Linked DNA regions of Homo sapiens: region 2 is linked to region 1. The links come from fine-mapping of genetic effects on gene expression. A gene starts in region 1. The other region holds a variant in brackets. All regions are shown on one strand. Distances are between the middles of the regions. Region 1 holds the start of GABRG3 (gamma-aminobutyric acid type A receptor subunit gamma3). Region 2 overlaps GABRG3 (gamma-aminobutyric acid type A receptor subunit gamma3).

The links. PIP is the estimated chance that this variant, and not a neighbour inherited with it, causes the effect.
Region 2: its variant is fine-mapped to the expression of GABRG3 in spleen (GTEx, PIP 0.95).

What each region holds. Positions count from the first base shown.
Region 1 is chr15:26,964,330-26,975,355 of GRCh38, forward strand. It overlaps GABRG3 (gamma-aminobutyric acid type A receptor subunit gamma3), which reads left to right and starts at 6,852. Exons shown (of 10, transcript NM_033223.5): 1 at 6,852-7,259. The coding sequence starts at 7,207. It also overlaps the pseudogene TVP23BP1.
Region 2 is chr15:27,049,928-27,057,927 of GRCh38, forward strand. All of the region lies in intron 3 of GABRG3 (gamma-aminobutyric acid type A receptor subunit gamma3), which reads left to right. The region is part of intron 2 of LOC124903449 (a long non-coding RNA gene); the gene reads right to left. Among named protein-coding and RNA genes, the nearest start is that of GABRG3, 83 kb to the left of the region's middle. RefSeq lists enhancers at 2,387-2,886, 7,765-8,000. The variant G/A (reference allele first, on the strand shown) is at 4,651.

The DNA of each region.
Region 1 (11,026 bases):
ATAAACCAACATCGTGTGTTTCCTACAATAACGCATCAAGAAAAGCAACATTACTTATGTCATATTTCTTCCCAAAATACATAACCTGAATCTGATCATGAGAAAGACTCACACAGAGGTACATTCTACAAAATACTTTTGTCTACTGAAACTACTGTGTTGTGAAAGATCAAGAATGGCCACAACCTGTTCTGGACTAAAAACAGACCAAGTGGACACAATAACTAGTGAAATGTGTGATCCTGAATGGGTTCCTGGGCTATATGGGAAAAATGCTATTGAAGGTATTATTAGATCAGTTAGAAAAATTAGTCTATGTACTGTAGATTAGATAATATTATAGAAACTTATAGTATTATTTTTACACATTTATTTGTAAACTTGTGAATACTTCCAAGAGAACAGTTTTAAAAATTGGGGGAAAATTTAAAAGCTGATGTATACGGAGATGCAAACAACCTAGAACAGCAATAAGTAAACAAATAAATGAACAAATTCAGAGCACTAACAATAATAGATATTAAGAAAATGAAAGGCCATAGTAATTTTTTAAATGTGATATTAGGGGGCCGGCACAGGGCTACCATGTTGCATCAGTACAGTAATGATGACACTGAAGACATTTCAGTGTTGGATGTGGAAGAGACAATAACAAAACAAAACAATCCAAAATCAGATATCCAGTGGCCTCACGTTTCCAGCTATTCTTTCAAGTCTGTGCAATTGTGGTCTACCTTCTTTGCAAATTGGTCAGCAGCAGCTTTACTGCTTGTATGGTGACAACTATCTTGTCATGTGACTTTAGGGCAGTGACGAATGTCACAGGTAGACTAGTGGTGGGTCTACGGTGTTGGAATCACATGATGAAGATGGAAAGAGCCATTGGGTGCTTGAGTCCAGAAAGGCATCCTCTCGGGAGGACAAAACTGTCTCAGAGGCTGAATCAAATCTTTTGGTTGGGACTTAATGCCTGTCCAGTGCTGTGGGTGATATTTATCTTTAGTGGCCTCATCTCCTTCAGGGTAAAGTGGTTAGCAGTGGTTATCATGAGTGTGGTGCTACAAGGTGCCAACCTATATGGCTACATCAGGTGTAAATAGGCAACGGAAAGAATGTAACCAGCATGGGTCCCTCATACTTGGAAAGCAGTTTTTAAGACAAAACACTGAGGATGATCAGACTTTGTGAACAGAGAGAGAATGCTTATGTGCTTTGTTACAGTGGGGAGCAAACAGAGATTGTTGACTCTGAACATTTTAGACCTCGGTCCATGATGCAACAAGGAATGTTGGCTTTGTTTTTCACTTAAAATCTTTAGTTAAAGCAAAGCAAAGTAGTTTTCTTATTAAGTTTTTATATCCTTTCCAGTAGTTGGGGCTAGAATGCATGTTGTCACTGAAGACATTGTCAACATTTGTTTTATGGTGTACATAAAATATGCACACAGTCATGTCATATCAATATATCCCAAACTAATGAAAGTGTGTTCATTTACATATGTAATGGAGACCTTTGTATTTTGGTCCATAGAACACAGAAGGATGTTCTTAGTCTATCTCAAGCTCTATATGTTTACATATTACTTCTGTATATTACTTTCCGAAGTAAGTTTTGCTTCCACAGTAAGAGTGAGCAGCTTGGCTCATGTATACCTTAGAAATTATTGTTAATTTTTAATATATACTTCACGTTGACATTTCTTAGACATACGCAAGAAAGTAAAAACCACATTTGGGCCAGTGATGTTAACTAGTTTCTAAAATGTTATTTATTTTTATTCGTAACAAGCCATTTACTTAAGTTTATGTAAAGGGATAGTTTATGCTTAAGGGATAGCAGAGGTTGTTGCTGTTCTGTTTATTGTATAGAAAACATGGCCAGATTTTAATTTAGAACTTCCTGGAAGCTCTTCAGTGGACTTTGAGCTAATACAATATATCTTTTGTCACCAAAAGAGTATTATTCTTATGTCATAATGAGAACAATAATTTGCATGCGTGGCATAATAAATGCCTAAAAGACATTTTATTTTATGACTCTATTCTTTGCTATAATAGGGATATTGTAAATCATATATTTGTATAATATTGGTGGTATTTATTAAAGCAATAGATGTAATGGTAAACAAAAAAATATGAAAACACAAAAGAGCTTCTACAAATAAAAAGAAAGCCAACAGTCTAGTTTTAAAATGGGCAAAAGACTTAAATGACACTTCATAAAAGAAGATATTCCAATGGCTGGTAAAAATTTGAAAGAAGTTCTATGAAATCAAAACCAGAATGAAATACCAGAATGGCAGGCCAGGCGCGGTGGCTCATGCCTGTAATCCCAGCACTTTGGGAGGGCCGAGGTGGTGGATCACGGAGGTCAAGAGATCAAGACCATCCTGGCCAATATGATGAAACCCCGTCTCTATTAAAAATACAAAAAAATTAGCTGGGTGTGGTGATGTGCGCCTGTAGTCACAGCTACTCGGGAGGCTGAGGCAGGAGGATTGCTCGAACCCGGGAGGCAGAGGTTGCAGTGAGCCGGGATCGCGCCACTGCACTCCAGCCTGGTGACAGAGCGAGACTCCGTCTAATAGAAAAAAAAAAAAAAGAAATATCAGAATGGTGACAAAAATAATGGCAAGGCCACATTTCATCAAGGGTATACACCAGAACTCATATATTGCCAATGCGTGATGAATATAACTGCTTTAGAAATCTCTGTAGTAATATTTATAATCATGAAACACATGCCTTCCTTGTGATCTGGACATTCTATTTTCAGTCAGATAACCAAGAGAAATGAACACATATGTCCATCAAAAGACAAGAATATTCATGTTAGCTTTATTCATAACATCCCAAAGTTTCAAACCCAAAAATCCATTGGCATAGGAACAAATAAATAACGTGTGGTGTATTCACACAATGAACTATCATGCACAGCAGTAAAAAGTAATGAATGACTGGTAATGTAGCAATAAGGGTACATCTCACAGACACTGCACTGAGTGAGAGAAGCCGGAGGCTAAGTGGATAATACTGCATGACCACATGTATGCGAGGTGCAAGACTGGGCAAAACCAGGCTTCTGTGGCCAAAGCCTGAATAGTTGGTTACCCAGTGTCGGCACTGACTTGAAGATGGCCCAGCCACTGGGAATTACATAATTATATATTTGTTATATATAATAATCCAGATGCTATACATATGCTATTCATATACATATGGTATACACATGCGAAATAGTTCACTGAGCCATACTTTTAAGATCGGTGCATTTTTGTTGTGTGTGCATTATCCCTTGATAGTACCGTTTTGATTGACAAGGGAAAGGCGCTTTTTCAAAATATAAAACCACGAAACATCATGTAACCCAGAAGTACAGTTTTGGGAGTGGGAGAGATGTTTCTCAAAGCAGAACCTGGGGCAACCACGGAGCAGCGGATGCGCGCTGAAGGGCGCGTGGGCAGCGGGGTGGTTCCGCGGCCTGCGGGGCGCAGCGCGCCACCGCGGGATCTGAAAGGCGCTTCCTGGCAACGCTGCTAGGGTCCCGCCGCCCCCGCCGAGGTGAAGTCCAACCCGCAGCTGCGCGGGCAGCCCAGGTCTTCCCCAGAACCTCCGGAGCCGAGGACCCAGCGCCAAGCCAGGAGCAAAGCAGCGCGCCAGGCTGGAGCTGTTCCGTCATTACCGCCACGTCTGCGCTTCGGTTGTGAGAACCGATTCGTTACCCTAACCTCTTAGGACTAAGAGCCAGTCTTCTGGTGGCGCTCGCTTTCACTTACTTTTTATTTCCCTTTCTATTCCCGCGAGCTAGGGGGAGAAAGTGTAAATCCCGCCCGCTTCTCCAGGGCTGAAAATGGAGAGGCTGAGGCGGCTTGGAGAGTGCGCACTGCGCATGCTCCGCAGAGCATCCCCGCAGGTCAACCGGGGCAAGGGAGAGACATGAAAGCCTGTGGCTTCTCCTTTGAAGATTCTTTTTTTTTTTTTTTTTTTTTTTTTGAGACGGAGTCTCGCTCTGTCGCCCAGGCTGGACTGCGGACTGCAGTGGCGCAATCTCGGCTCACTGCAAGCTCCGCTTCCCGGGTTCACGCCATTCTCCTGCCTCAGCCTCCCGAGTAGCTGGGACTACAGGCGCCCGCCACCGCGCCCGGCTAATTTTTTGTATTTTTAGTAGAGACGGGGTTTCACCTTGTTAGCCAGGATGGTCTCGATCTCCTGACCTCATGATCCACCCGCCTCGGCCTCCCAAAGTGCTGGGATTACAGGCGTGAGCCACCGCGCCCGGCCCCTTTGAAGATTCTTAACCTTGCATTTTGCTTTCACACTTAACGCCTAGAAAGCTTGCTTTGATTTTTCCCCAACCTTTCAGCTCATTTAGCTTTAAAAAACAAAATCTCGTTCCAGGAAGAGGGGAGGGGCTTTCCAAGAGAAAATGTTCAGACGTATCAAGTTGACCTACTCAATCTAATAAATGAAGCGAAGCATTCCAAAGGCCAGAGGGGATCATCTTGCATTCATTCATAATAGCACGTTGAAATATGCAAGAAAGGAAAAGAATAAAGAACACAGGGATGTAAAAACAGTATTGCGTTTTCTTGTTCACTGATTGAATTGTAAAAAAAATAATAACAACAAACAAATCTCAGGACACTTCTTGTTTACTGATATTTTACAAAATCACTCAAGTAACAGTCTATTTCTATTATAAACAACTTGTGAGTATTTTAACTCATGCTCAAAAAATAAATAATATGGTAAGAAGTCCAAAACTTTCATCAACTAGCCCAACAACAAATGTCAGCTGAGCACCTACTCAGGCAGACAGTATGGTATAGTGATTAGGAATGAAACATTGGAGCCAGCTGCCTGGCTTTTAACCCCCAGTCCTCACCTACTAGCTGTGTGATCCTGGGGTAAGCGACTTAACTTCTCTGTGCTTTTTCTCTATATGCGAAACGGAAATAATGTTGTGAGAGTTAAAATGAGTTAATCAATGTAAAGCCTTCCTGTCGGCCCTGGCCCCTGTTATGTGATCAATGTCAGATGGTTATTTTTACTTATGTTCCTATTACTGTGTTAAGAAGGGAAACACAAAAGAATTGTTTCTACTTGCAGCATTCTTGCAGCACACTCAGGCGTGGTGGCTCATGCCTGTAATCTCAGCACTTTGGGAGGCCGAGGCGAGCAGATTACTTGAAGTCAGGAGTTGCAGAAGAGCCTGGCCAACATGGTGAAACCCCATCTTTACTAAAAATACAAAAATTAGCCAGGCGTGGTGGTGGGTGCCTGTAATCCCAGCTACTCAGGAGGATGAGGCACGAGAATCACTTGAACCCGGGAGGTGGAGATTGCAGTGAGTCCAGATGACACTACTGCACTCCAGCCTGGGCGATAGAGTGAGACTCAAGTCTCTTATGTGGAGACGACATAAGCAATGAAGGAACAATAAATCATCATCTAACTGATTTTTAAAGTGCTCAGATTTTGGTACAGAAAATTAGAGATTAGGGCAGAGTATGATAAAGGCTCATATTCCCCTGAAGCCTAAAGGAGTGGTACAGGTGTTGGAAGTGGAAGAATGCAGGAGCGTCAGAGTCTTCATCAAAGAGGGGACCTTATAGGGCATGTGCACCTAAGTAGGAGGGATGTGCTGGGCAGAGGAGGATGAGAATGCCAGAAAGAGTCCTGGAAAGGCGGGGAGCTGGGTGAGTTCAGCACCTCACAGAGACAGAAAGGTGATGCCAGGGAGATGACAGCTCCATTGTTGAAAAACAATATTGTCATTAACAACTGCACTCCCCTCCACTTCATGCCTATCCAGAAACAAGGGGGAACACACCAGAGGAATACAGGCCCATGCCACCATGCCCAGCTAATTCTTTACTATTTTTTGTAGAGACAGGGTTTTTGCACATTGCCTAGGCTGGTCTCGAACTCCTGGGGTCAAGTGATCCGCCTGCCTCGGACTCCCAAAGTGCCGGGGTTACCGGCTTGGGCCACTGTGCCTGGCCGAACAAAGCTATTTGACAATATTAAAGAAACAGTTATCACACCCTTACATAATTCTATGAATAGCAGTTATAAAACATTTTCTAAGAACTTTTTGGGGGTGATAGAAATGTAAAATTCCTAGTGGATTTACTACACTGTTGCGATTGCAATACTTACATGGTGCAAGACTAACTTTCTGAATGATTATGACAAATGAAAGCGTAAATGCCATTTTCGGTTTTTGGAATATGAAAATACATGGAATGAGGCGCACCTCATGCTTCCACCAAACGGAACGTCTTTGGCTTCTTGCCTTAGGATCTTTCTAGCTCCTACCTTTAACATGCCTTTCCACCTCTACTGTTTATTGCTATGTGTTAGTCTCTCTTTTCTGTAAGAAAGGCATAAATCTGGGGTGCTTTTTTCCCAAATATTCCCGCAGAAAGCCACCTTTCCAAGCACAGAATCTTATCAGTGCCTAGGAGTTCAGCCGACTTAGCACGAAGAGTGCGATGGAAGGGCTGCTTTTGGCAAACCGTCTCAACCCCGGGCGACGGCGGGCACGGGAGGTCAGGGAGCGCTGGAGGAAACCTGCACTGGGGTAGAAATGGCTGGAGGAAGGCGGACCGCGGGCTCGCTCTCATGGTGCCAACCCCGGGGACCTTTCTTCAGGCTCCCTGCGGGATCCCCAGCCTCCCCTCCCCCTCGGAGCTCCGCCCCCTTCCTGGCCTCAAACTCCGAGTCCATTCAAACCTCGCCTTCCTCGCCCTGCGCGTTGTCAGGCGTGTAATTGGGGAAACTCCTCCCCGCCGGGACCGCCTCGGAGGCGCTGCCAGGGGACAGCCGCCCAGCTGCCCCCACCTCCCAGCACAGCGCACACAGCCCCGGCCTGGGCACCCGCGCCCGCTCGCGGCTCCAGGCGGGGTGGGCGGCGCCGCGCCAGGGGGTCCCCGGCGCCCATTGCTCCCGCCGCCCGGTTGCGCGGACCGGCGCTAGTGCGCGGGTGGGGGCGGCGCGCCGCGGTGGCCCGGCGTCCCGTGTGCGTCCAGTGTGCGCCCCGCGGGGGCGCGGCCAGCGCCAGAGTAGATACCTGTCCCGCCCGCCGCGGCCAGCAGCCTCGGAGGAAGCCAGGGCAAAGAGGGCCGGCGGAGACCAGGTCCGCGCCGGAGGAAGCCGCGCCCGGCCGAGGCCCCGGACCCTGCGCCCCGAGCTCCACGGCACCATGGCCCCGAAGCTGCTGCTCCTCCTCTGCCTGTTCTCGGGCTTGCACGCGCGGTAAGTGGCGCGGGGGCCGCATCCCCGGAGGCCCCGAGCTGGGCGACAGGGCGGCGGGGGGCGCTGTCTGCTGGAGTCCCTGGCGCGCCAGCCGTCGGCTGGGCTGCGGCACGGCGGGCCGGGAGGGGACTGGGAAGTCGGTCTGCACCTCACCTGTCCCAGCTCCCTTGGACACGGTCATCTGCTTTTTCCTCTGCAGCCGGGAGTGTGGGGACTCAGATTAATGGGCTCGTCTCCTGACGCTTTTAGGATCTGGTGGTTTTAAGGGGTTTTGAGAACCAGGTTCAGGGGGCAGGGGCCATTTCTGGCTCCTTACCGACCCCTAATTCCCACCTCAGCTGTTTCAGGGGCTCACACACACACACACTTTGGCTGACATTCTCTGTCATTTCCATCACTCTGAAATTTCCAAGAACCCGGGAACCGTGGTTCTAACTGCCTAGTTTAGACCGGGCTGGAAAGAGCTAATGCATTGGAGGCAGGCGCGGGGGGATTGGAACCAGGTGGGCAGAAGAAAGCCCTGCTTGTCTGGGAGGACTCCCCTCCCAGGTCCTGCAAACACACACACACACCTTCCACATCAGCCACTTTCACACAGAGGAACACACGCACTCCCACCCCCATAAAGCACGCATGTCGAAATGGATAATAAGGCTTCTGCCTGGTAATGTAAGAAATCATCTCACCATAAATTCCGCAACCTTCCTCCCAGTACACCAACCGGCTAATGGGAGCTTAGAATCACTCTAGAAGAGATGAAGAGGGCGCATGAGGATACAAGGACAGTGGGACCCAAAGGGTTAAATCCTGTTGCTGTAAACACAACTGGAGATTCTGGGTTTAGTTTCTTTAATTCTGTCTCTCTGGCTGGATTTCTGGCTAGAGCTTGCAGACTGTCCTGTTATTTGAAAATTGGAGCAGTGTCTGGCCTTTACCTCTTTCCCCACCCTAGGAAGCTCAGCGTGCCCCTATCCCCCAAACCCTCTTGTTTTGACGCTTCTCCATTTCCTGGGTCTGGGAGCTAGAGAATCAGAGGGCATCCTTGCGTGCACAAGCCTGGCCACCATCAGGAGGCAATGCCAGGAGGCCTTGCCTTTTCATTCCTATTTGTGAACTACCAAGGAGCTAGGAAGACACATGAATAAATCCTACTAAACATGAAGGGGGCCCCCAGTTCTCACTCCTGAATTGGGCAGGGGTGCTTACCCTGAGGAAGGAAGCCCTGGCCCTCCCCCTTGCAACTGCTCCTCTTTGCTGAGTTGAGTGTGGAAGCCGACTCCACCGGTGACTCACAGGCAACTCTTTCAAAGAGACAGAGCACTCCTTGGGCCTTTCAGCTGAAGTTTCTTTCTGTCTCAAGAGGCAGCTGGTGCAAGCAATGGAAACATGCTTTCTGAGGTTGCTTCTTCCTGGTTGTATCTCTGTTTAGAGATGGAGAGGGAGGCAGACAGCACCGGGCATAACGCTGAGGCCGGCAGTCACATCTCTGCCACCTTTCTATTGCCACCAACTCAAACGAGTGACCAGCCGTTCAGGGTTCAGTAATCAACTGTTTAGGTCTCTGGATTCTTAACATTCTAGAAGAAACACTGCCTATTGTCCTCACTACTGCATGTGCTTAGTAGGAAGATACCTCAGCCTCTGCCTTAAAACAGTCCGGTTACTGGGGATTCCCAAATATACACAAAATCTCTTGGGATTCTTCATCCTTCCATTCTACTAAGACAGACATAATGATTTTCATTTGTTCTCTATTTGGGCTCGTTCCCCAGCTTTCATAATAGAGCTTGCAGATCAGTTAAAAAATCCAAATTTTATACTAACTTTATTGCTATATGCCTCTTCTTTGAGAGTGTCTTTGTTCTCTGAATGGGTTTTACAGACATGTGAAATAATCTGATGTGCAGTGTCATCTTTCAAAACTGTTTTAAATTTGGAGGGGTTTCTCATTTGCACTCTGAGTCCCTTCCTGCTGTGGAAGTTCCTTGGATAAGGGTCTGATGGCTGTGCTTTGTGGTGATGGCTCAGCAGCTCCCCAGAAGGGGGGACTCCCCATTTTGACACCCATGGGCATCATAAAACGCACTGATTCCCACTCAGACCTTGGTGATGCCTTAACTGCTTTCTGAGGTTTAGGAACTCCTTTTAATGCTTAAAAATACTTCAGACTTTTTCTCTGTCCTTCCGCTTTAAGCTAAGGTGTAAGACATGAAAATAACATCTGAAGGTTGAGTTGTTGTTTGACTATGACAATACATCACTGATTTATTTTTAAGGAAAAGCTAATTTCAGTAATGGTGTTTAGGATCCAACAATGCAAGTAACAGTGCTCATAAAGATTATATATAACTTACTTAGAATTTAGGGAAAAGAGAATATTTCTATATTATCCACATTCTAATGGGTCCCCTGAGATGAGATTTCATTTTTGTCAAAGCAAGGATTTTCCTGTGGGCCTGGTGGTCTGGCACTAGCAATGTGAGGCTTCTATTTCATTTTCAGGATTTGAGGGAGAAGGGTGCTCACTGCCCAGGGACCTAGAGCATCTCGGCCTCACTCTGCCCACTGCCTACCCAACCAGGCTACACAGCTGGGGCCCTGATATGCCTCCCAAAGGGGTGGAAGAGAACGTTCCTGCTTTCTTTTTCTTGGTCCCCCTCACTGCCACCTGTCCTGGCCTCTAAGGAGGAAGCGCTTGCAATTTCAGGAAAACCCTCTCATCACCACTAGAGGGAGAATTAGGCTTATTACAATACCTGTAAGTAGCTGGAAGTAATTTTTAAAAACTAAGGCTGCGTATATAGAGAATGATGAAAAGCTGGTTACTGTGCTCGGTTTGTGTGTATGTGATTATCAGGGCCATAGACAATAACACAGGGTGGAGGCTGTGGTCTGGCTCTGTAGTGGTGGGGGTAGGAGAGGGGAGGAGAACGGGAGGGGAGGGGAAGAAGAGTGAGGCAGACCCCCTCACAGTGCCCAAGACAGAGACAGCAGAGGGAGGGAGGAAGGCACCTGGGCTGAGTCGCCAAGTGTCCTGAGCATGTTGTGCCTGATTCTGCTGAGATGAGCTACCGGCCTCTCCTCACTGCCCCAGATGCCCTTGCTGTGGAGTGATTTGCCCTGTCCCGTGGGCAGTGCTTGATTCCCAGCTATCTAAATGCTTCAACCTGCTCTTTAAGTTTTAAAAAATTTTTGCAAGATGATAAAATTAACATTTCTGATAATATTTCAGATGACACGAAATATTTTTTAAATTTATTATTATTATTATTATTATTATTATTATTATTATTATTATTATTTGAGATGGAGTCTCGCTCTGTTGCCCAGGCTGGAGTGCAGTGACACTATCTCGGCTCACTGCAACCTCTGCCTCCTGGGTTCAAGCAATTCTCTTGCCTCAGCCTCCTGAATAGCCAGGACTACAGGCATGTGCCACCATGCCCCGCTAATTTTTTTTGTATTTTTAGTAGAGACGGGGTTTCACCCTGTTGGCCAGGCTGGTCTGGAACTCCTGACCTCAGATGACCCACCCGCCTTGGCTTCCCAAAGTGTTGGGATTACAGGCGTGAACAACCATGCCCGGCCAGATGACATGAAATATTTTAGAGTAACATTTAAAATTCTGTAGTATTACTTGTAAATGTTCACTTTAATAAATAATGAAATGCAACATATTCCTTACTGAATAGGTGCCCCACATTTAAAAATTCCTATCGATCGTGAATATCCAATGTGCATAAAAATCAACAGCAATTTATAGTTTC
Region 2 (8,000 bases), 84 kb after region 1:
ATTGTGGATTAATTAGATAATACATCAAATGCCTGTGATGTTGTCTGAAATATGTTGAATAAGACCTATAATAAGTGGGTTTCTCTATTCTGTTCTGAGACGGGCCTTTCCAAAAGCAGAGAGGAAACACACAGCTTTTTGGTAGAGGAAGAAGATTTAAATTTAATCTCTGGTACATCCCGTTCTGATACCTATGTATATGCAGATTCTAAAGTGAGATTTAGTCTCTATATTGGGCATGGACTGAGATAGTCTCCACATGTTCTTTGATGACACACAAAGAGATTAGCCGTAGGGAAAAGACACAATATTTTACTTCCTGTATGAAGGAAGGCATTTGCTTTGAGCTGTTTCCTCCTTCTTCTGTGCTCATGCCTGAAACTCTGTCCCTGGGGCCCCCTGGTGACCCCAAACTGCATTCTCCCCTGCTTCCCGAGGGTGGGTGAAATTACTGTCCCTTTCTCGCAGGCACAGCAGGGCTGTTCAGGTCTCCAGCCAACTCCCTTCACCTGGGAGGTGGCAGGGCAGCCACACACCATTGCCTTGCCCTTCGTCCTGCTGTTCCTAGGATAAGATAGCATCTCAGGGGATCTTAGGAGGATCTCTGGGTTTTACTACCAGTAAAGCTGTAAAGCCCTTATTTGCCCAGGAGAACAAGATTTCCTCGAATACCTAAACTCAGTAATGTAGAAGCAGCTGAGTTATTAAGATTCAGACTTCTGGAGGGGGCTGTTTTTATTCTTGGGTGTTTTATTTCCAAGTGGATGACAATAAGTTATTTTTATAAACTTTTTAAATTTAATTATAATATTATTAACTATTTCTTAAGTTATAGACTAATTATCTGTAATTACAAGGAAATTACTTATAGTAGTCATACAGTATTACCACTGATTACTATATATTAAGCATTACAATTTATTACCAATAGCTGTACATATTTTGCTTATAATATGATGTTTAATATCATGGTCCTGCTATTGCAAATTATGTAGTTTTTAAACTCATGAGAGGAAGAGATTTATCCATTTTATATGGTAAGAGGAAAATGATCCAAATATGGTCAAATTTATACTGCTGTTAGCTGTAGCACATAAAAGTCATACAATGCTAGGTGTAACCAGATAAATTGAGGCAATAGGACTCAGACCACAAATTCTTTGTATTTATTAGATGACCATAGTGCAGTTGTTTTTTACATTTGCCTTAAATTCTATAGACTTTCATTCCAAAGGGAAAAAATCTAGACAAGCTACAATTGTTGACTCTCCTGTTTTCAGTCATTTTAGGTAATGATTAGACCTGACCTAAATTTACTGGCAATTTAGAATCTCAGAAGAAATGCTGTTTTATTGATTTTATTTTTTTTATTGAGGTTATGTCCCTCCAAAATGCATCTATCCATCAATGTCCATCCAGAAGATAAACTATAGTGAATTAGCCATTGTTTATAATGGATACACATTTTGATGAATAGTATATGTTGTGGACTGAATTTTGTGTCTCCCCCAAAATGCATCTGTTGAAATCCTAACTCCCAAGGTGGTGATATTAGGAGGTGTGTCCTTTGGGAAGGGGATTAAGTCATGAGGGTGGAGGCCCCACACATGGGATTAGTGACTTTATAAAAGGGACCTCAGATAACTCTTGTCCCTTCCTCTGTGTGGGGACACAGCAGGAAGATACCATCTAAGACAGTAGTCCCCAACCTTTTTGGCACCAGGGACCGGTTTCATGGAAGACAGTTTTTCCACGGACCAGGGCTGGGGGTTTCAGGATGATTCAAGTGCATTACATTTATTGTGCAGTCTACTTCTATTACTATTATATTGTAATATACAGTGAAATAATTATACAACTTATACAACTCACCATCATGTAGAATCAGTGGAGCCCTGAGCTTGTTTTCTAGCAATTAGATGGTCCCATCTGGGGGTGATGGGAGACGTGACAGATCATCAGGCATTAGATTCTCATAAGGAGTGTGCAACCTAGATCCCTTGCATGTGCAGTTCACAATAGGGTTCGTGCTCCTGTGAGAATCTAATGCTGCCACTGATCTGACAGGAGGCGGAGCTCAGTAATGTGAGTGATGGGCAGCGGCTGTAAATACAGATGAAGCTTCTCTTGCTCGCCCGCCTCTCACCTCCTGCTGTGTGGCCCAGTTCCTGACAGGCCTTGGACTGATACCCGGCCACAGATCGGGCGTTGGGGCCCCCTGATCTAAGAGGAAGAATGCCATGTCTGGTAGAAGGATGGTGTGTTCTCTGTCCCACCCCCATGAAATTTCTGGTGGGGACTGGTCTGTCTTTGTCTCTTGAGAGTGCTGAGTTACGTTGATCACAACACCTCTGATCACCTTGGGGGGGTGCTGTCACTCCCGTGCCGCAAATGGTGACCAGATCAGAGAAAGGACTCAGCCCTCAGGTGGTGGCACCATAGCCAGTGGCCAGTGGGGCCTCGGCGTGTGGCACAGGTGGTAGAAAAACTTGGCATTCTGTGGGCCAATGTGGAGTGTTAGGCCTGGAGAATCACAGAAAATCTAAGCATAAGGCCCTTCATTCCTCCTGTAACTCCTTGACAAAAGAAGTGCCACAGTGCCTGTGAGGGTGCATGATGGCAGGCCACTTCCCTCCTGCTGCTTCTAAAACACACGAAATCTAGTATCAAGACAAACAAAAATAAATGAGCAAGAAGATTCAGCAAATGGATCAGCAGATGATTAAAATACCTAATGTAGAGCTATGCTCATAGTTTAAAAAGTCTAGATACAGTGGACAATTTGGGGGAAAGATTAACCTGGATCAAAAGAAGAGGGAAACACAATTTCATACTATACTGCAAGACTACATTAACCAAAATAGCATGGTACTGGCACAAAAACAGACATACGGACAAGTGGAATAGAGTAGATAACCCAGAAATAAAGCAACACACATGCAACCAGATGATCTTTGATAAAATTGATAAAAATAAGCAATAGGGAAAGGACTCTCTGTTCAGTAAATAGTGCTGGGAAAACAGGCTAGCCACATGCGGAAGAATGAAACTGGACCCTACATATCACCATATACAAAAATTAACTCAAGGCGGATTAAAGGCTTAAATGTAAGACATCAAAATAACAAAATCCTAGAAGAAAACCTAGGAAATACCCTTCTGGATATTGGCCTTGGCAAAGAATTTATGGCTAAGTCCTCAAAAGCAATTGCAACAAAAACAAAAATTGACAGTGGGACCAAATAACTAAAGAACTTCTGTACAGCAACAGAAACTATCAACAACCCACAGAATGGGAGAAAATATTCACTATGCTTCTAATAGAGGCCTAATGTCCAGAATCTATAACTAACTTAAATCAACAAACAAAAACAAATAACCCCACTAGAAAGTGAGTAAAGGACATGGACAGATACTTCTCAAAAGAAGACATACAAGTGACCAACAAATGAAAAAATCCTCAACATCACTAACCGTCAGAGAATTGCAAATCAAAACCACAGTGAGACACCATCTCACGCCAGTCAGAATAGTTATTACTAAAAAGTTAAAAGCCAGCAGGGTTGGAGAGGCTGCAGAGAAAATGGAACACTTATACACTGTTGGTGAGAAGGTAAATTGGTTCAGCCATTGTGGAGAGCATTTTGGAGATTTCTCAAAGAAGTAAAAACAGAACTAGCAATCCCATTACCTAGTATATACCCAGTGGAAAATAAATCATTCTACCAAAACGACATATGCACTTGTATGTTCACTGCACCACTATTCACAATAGCAAAGACATGGAATGAACCAAAGTGCCCATAAATGGTGACAGAAAAAAGAAAATGTGTAAATATACACCGTGAAATACCGCGCAGCCATTAAGAAAGAATGAAGGCATATCCTTTGCAGCTACATGGATGGGAAGGTGGAGGCCGTGATCCTAAGTGAATTAATGCAGAAACAAAAATGAAATACTGCATGTCATCACTTATAAGTGGAAGCTAAATTTTGGATACACATGGACATAAAGATGGGAATAGACACTGGGGACTTCAAAAGGAGGGAGGGGCCGGGTGTGGCGGCTCACGCCTCTAATCCCTGCACTTTGACTAAGGCAGGTGGATCACCTGAGGTCAGGAGTTCGAGACCAGCCTGGCTAACCTGGTGAAACCCCATCTCTACTAAAAAAAATAGCACGCACCTGTAATCCCAGCTACTCAGGAGGCTGAGGTGGGAGAATCCCTTGAGCCCGGGAGGCGGAGGTTGCAGTGAGCCGAGATCGCACCACTATACTCCAGCCTGGGCGAAAGAGCCAAACTCTATCTCAAAAAGAAAAAAAAAAAGAAAAAAGGAGGGAGGGTGTGAGGGGGCCAAGGACTGAAAAACTGCCTGTTGGGTTCTGTGCTCACTACCTGGGAGATGGGACCGATCAAAGCCCAAACCTCAGCATCACGAAACATATCCAGGGAACAAACCTGCACGTGTACCCCCTGAATCTAAAATAAAAATAGAAATAAACAAGGAAGAAGGAAATAAGCAACACTGGAAAAAACTGTAAAAGTTATCAAAGAATTTCCTCCAAAACAGGTTCCAGAGCCAAAGTCACGTTTTTCAGAAGCAACATTCCCAAGGCTGTAAGACTTGACTGAGTGTTACAAGAAAGGC[G/A]GAAATGCATCCGTTTATTTTGTGGTGCCGCCCTGACTCCCATACAGAAAACTGGCCAGGACAACGCAGAGCTGCAGATCCGTCAGATGGAATGGATACAGATCAGTCTTGATGCCAGGGACGGTGCTTCAAAAGCAGCTATTACTCTGAAAGGACACTCAGCAGATCCGGGGGCTTCAGGTTGTGAGATGAGCTCTGTATCGAGCGGGGAGGAACAGCTGCTGTGCACCACACTGAAGCCCTGAGACCAGCGGGGAACTACCTGTCTTTATTAAGATCGACTACAAAAGTCTAAGTTACTGTCCTCGTTTTGAGGGGGACTCTGAGTGGACCCTTGGTGGAATGGTTGTCAGCCACAAAGCAAGAGCGTCAAACCTGAGAGTGAAACTGGGCAAAGTTTGTAAGTTACAGCCCAAGGGCCAAGACCTGTTTTTTTTTTTTTTTTTTTTTAAATGACTTGTCAGCTAATAATAGTCTTTACATTCTTAAAGGATTGTGAAAAACAGCAGCAGCAGCAACAACAACTAGCCCCCCAAACAAAAGAAGGCTGTGTAATAGAGACTCCGTGTCCCACACCAGAGCAGCCTGTGATAGAGGCTCCGCGTCCCGCACCGGAGCAGCCTGTGATAGAGACTCTGTGTCCCGCACCGGAGCAGCTTGCTAGCACGTCCCGGGCTTTCACCCCGTAACATCTTAAGAAGGATGGAAAGACCAATCAGTACAAAAAAATAACCTGAACTTGTTACATCTGTAACTCGGGGAAATTAGTTCTAAAGCTATCATTATTTGCTAATGTTATAAGTATTTATTTAGGAAGTCAAAAGGAGATAATGGAAGACTTAGATACAGGCGGAGCATCCCAAATCTGAAAATCGGAAATCCAGAAGGCTCCAAAATCCAAAGCTTTGTGAGCACTGACCTAATGCGACAAATAGAAAATCCCACACCTGACCTCACATGGCAGGTCACAGTCAAACGCTGGCGCAGAACACACGGTGTTTTCAGCGTTCCCATAGGAATAATAAAATTACCTTCAGGCTACATGCATAAGGTGTGTATGAAACATAAATGAATTCCTGTTTATACTTGGTTTCCATTATTAAGATATTTCATTATCTGTATGGAAATATTTTCAAATATGAAATAATCTGAGATCTGAAACACTTCTGGTCCCATGCATTTCAGATAAGGGATACCCAACCAGTAATGATGGAGATTATCAAAGGTTTGAGAACAAAGCAAAAGCATTCTCAAAAGTCATTGAGAAAAAAAAATCATCCCAGAAATACTAGGGAAATATATGGTTTTTAATTTTTAAAGAGTTTTATATTATTTTAATTGGCAAATAATAAATGCACATATTGATGAGGTACAATGTGACACTTTGATACATGTATACATTCTGCAGTGATCAACTCAAGGTAATATTTTTTAAAAATTTGCAGGAGGAGAAAAATCACAAATAGTCACAAACAGAAAATAAATGTACAGGCTGGGTGCAGTGGCTCAAGCCTGTAATCCTAGCACTTTGGGAGGCTGAGGTGGTGGGTTACTTGAGTCCAGGAGTTCGAGATCAGCCTGGGCAACATGGAGAAAACCCATGTCTACAAAAAATGCAAAATAATGAGCCAGGTGTGGTGGTACACACCTGTAGTCCCAGCTACTTGGGAGGCTGAGGTGGGAGGATCACTTGAGCCTGGGGGGAACTGAGGCCGCAGTGAGCTGTGATTGTGCCACTGCACTCCAGCCTGGTTGACAGAGTGAGACCCTGTCTCCAAAAAAAAAAAAAAAAAAAAGAAAAGAAAAAAGAAAATAAACATACATATTGAGATATTGAACCCGTTGTTTGAGTCAGGCATGGTTTTAGGTCCTGAAATGAAAATTAACACCAGACAACCAGCCTGAGAATTTGCAAGAATGTTCTAAAAGTGATCATGCAGTGCTGGAAAAAGCTGTGGAAAGAAAGTGAGAAGTGTTGTCCAGTGTTGGTGGGAGAATGAAACTGGGGTGTGTGGAGAGCGTTTGTGAGAAGCCTCCGCCGGAAGGAGCTCAGATCCTGCTGTTGGTGCTCCAAGCTCAGACTGAATGGGAAGTTCACAAGACCCCCCACGGTGGCTTCCACTGCAAACAGAAAACCAGTGGACGTGAGGATGGGAGAGGTGGTGGATGAGCGTTTTCATTAAAGTTGTTGATTTATTCTGCAATAAATGGAACTCGTTTGTAGGGTAGCTTTTTAAGAATGGCTCCAGCACACTATTCTGGATTCTTCACTGATTTCTCTTGAGACCCAAGACTGTGATCGGGAAAAAGCACCTTCTCATCATCTAGTTCCTCTGTGTGCAGTGTGTGCTTGGGTCCTCCTTAATGAAAAATATTGTCCCTGTCTCCTATCTCCTCTTGTTCAGACTCTATACTCTTCCCTGCTTATTATCAAGGGAAGGATTCAGAGACAGGGTGTGGAGTAAACATTGCTCTCATGTCCATTGTCCAGGTGGAGAAATAAACCTTCCAACAGTGGCCAGAACCCCTAACCCCAGCCCCTTCTTGAAGCTTTTAGTCCTTGATTCCATTTTTTTGGTCATCAGATTTTTAGCTGGTGGTTTTTTCCAAGGGTGGATCTTTCTTCCTAACTCACACACATGAAACTCCTCTGCTTCTTGTGCCCATTGTGGCTGACAACTTCAATAAAGAAGTTTTCCGATCTGGCCAGGACAAAAGTCACAGAACATAATTTTTATGGGATTAAAACCATTTCTGCTCTTGTAGTTTCAGTAGAGAATGTTTTCTGAAACCAGCTTACAGGAAGGCATCAACACTTACGGTGATTTATGCCTCTGATTTTTAGGAGAAAATGGTAAATGACAAGTACAATGCCTGAGATTTATTAAAACAAAAACATTTCAGAGAATGTCATGGGGTGGTTTGAGGTCTGCTCAGTTTCCTGTGCCTTATACATCTACGGGGCTGCACGATCCTAGAAGACGTGTCTGAGCCCCCTGGAAAGGCCTCTGGGCTGTGGAGGGCACCTGTGATGGAGAGAGGTGTCCTGGCCGCCAGGTCACCCTCGGGGCTCCCATTGCTCATGTCCTTCAGGTGTTTCCTAAGTAAAAACTGGTGTTGTTGTCTGGGAATCTTACCACGTACTTATTCTTTGGAAATCTATCATACCAGCAGGTGGAATCGGTGTAGTTCAGGACATTCGCCATTTAATCGAGACATAGAAAAGCCATGTTTACTTGCCTCAAAGAAGTCCCACTGATGAAGAAATAAAGGAAGTTTCCATGCACATCCACTACCAGAAGGAAAGTCATGACAGTCCGCTCCCATTGCAACTCGAGAGGATGTGTGCA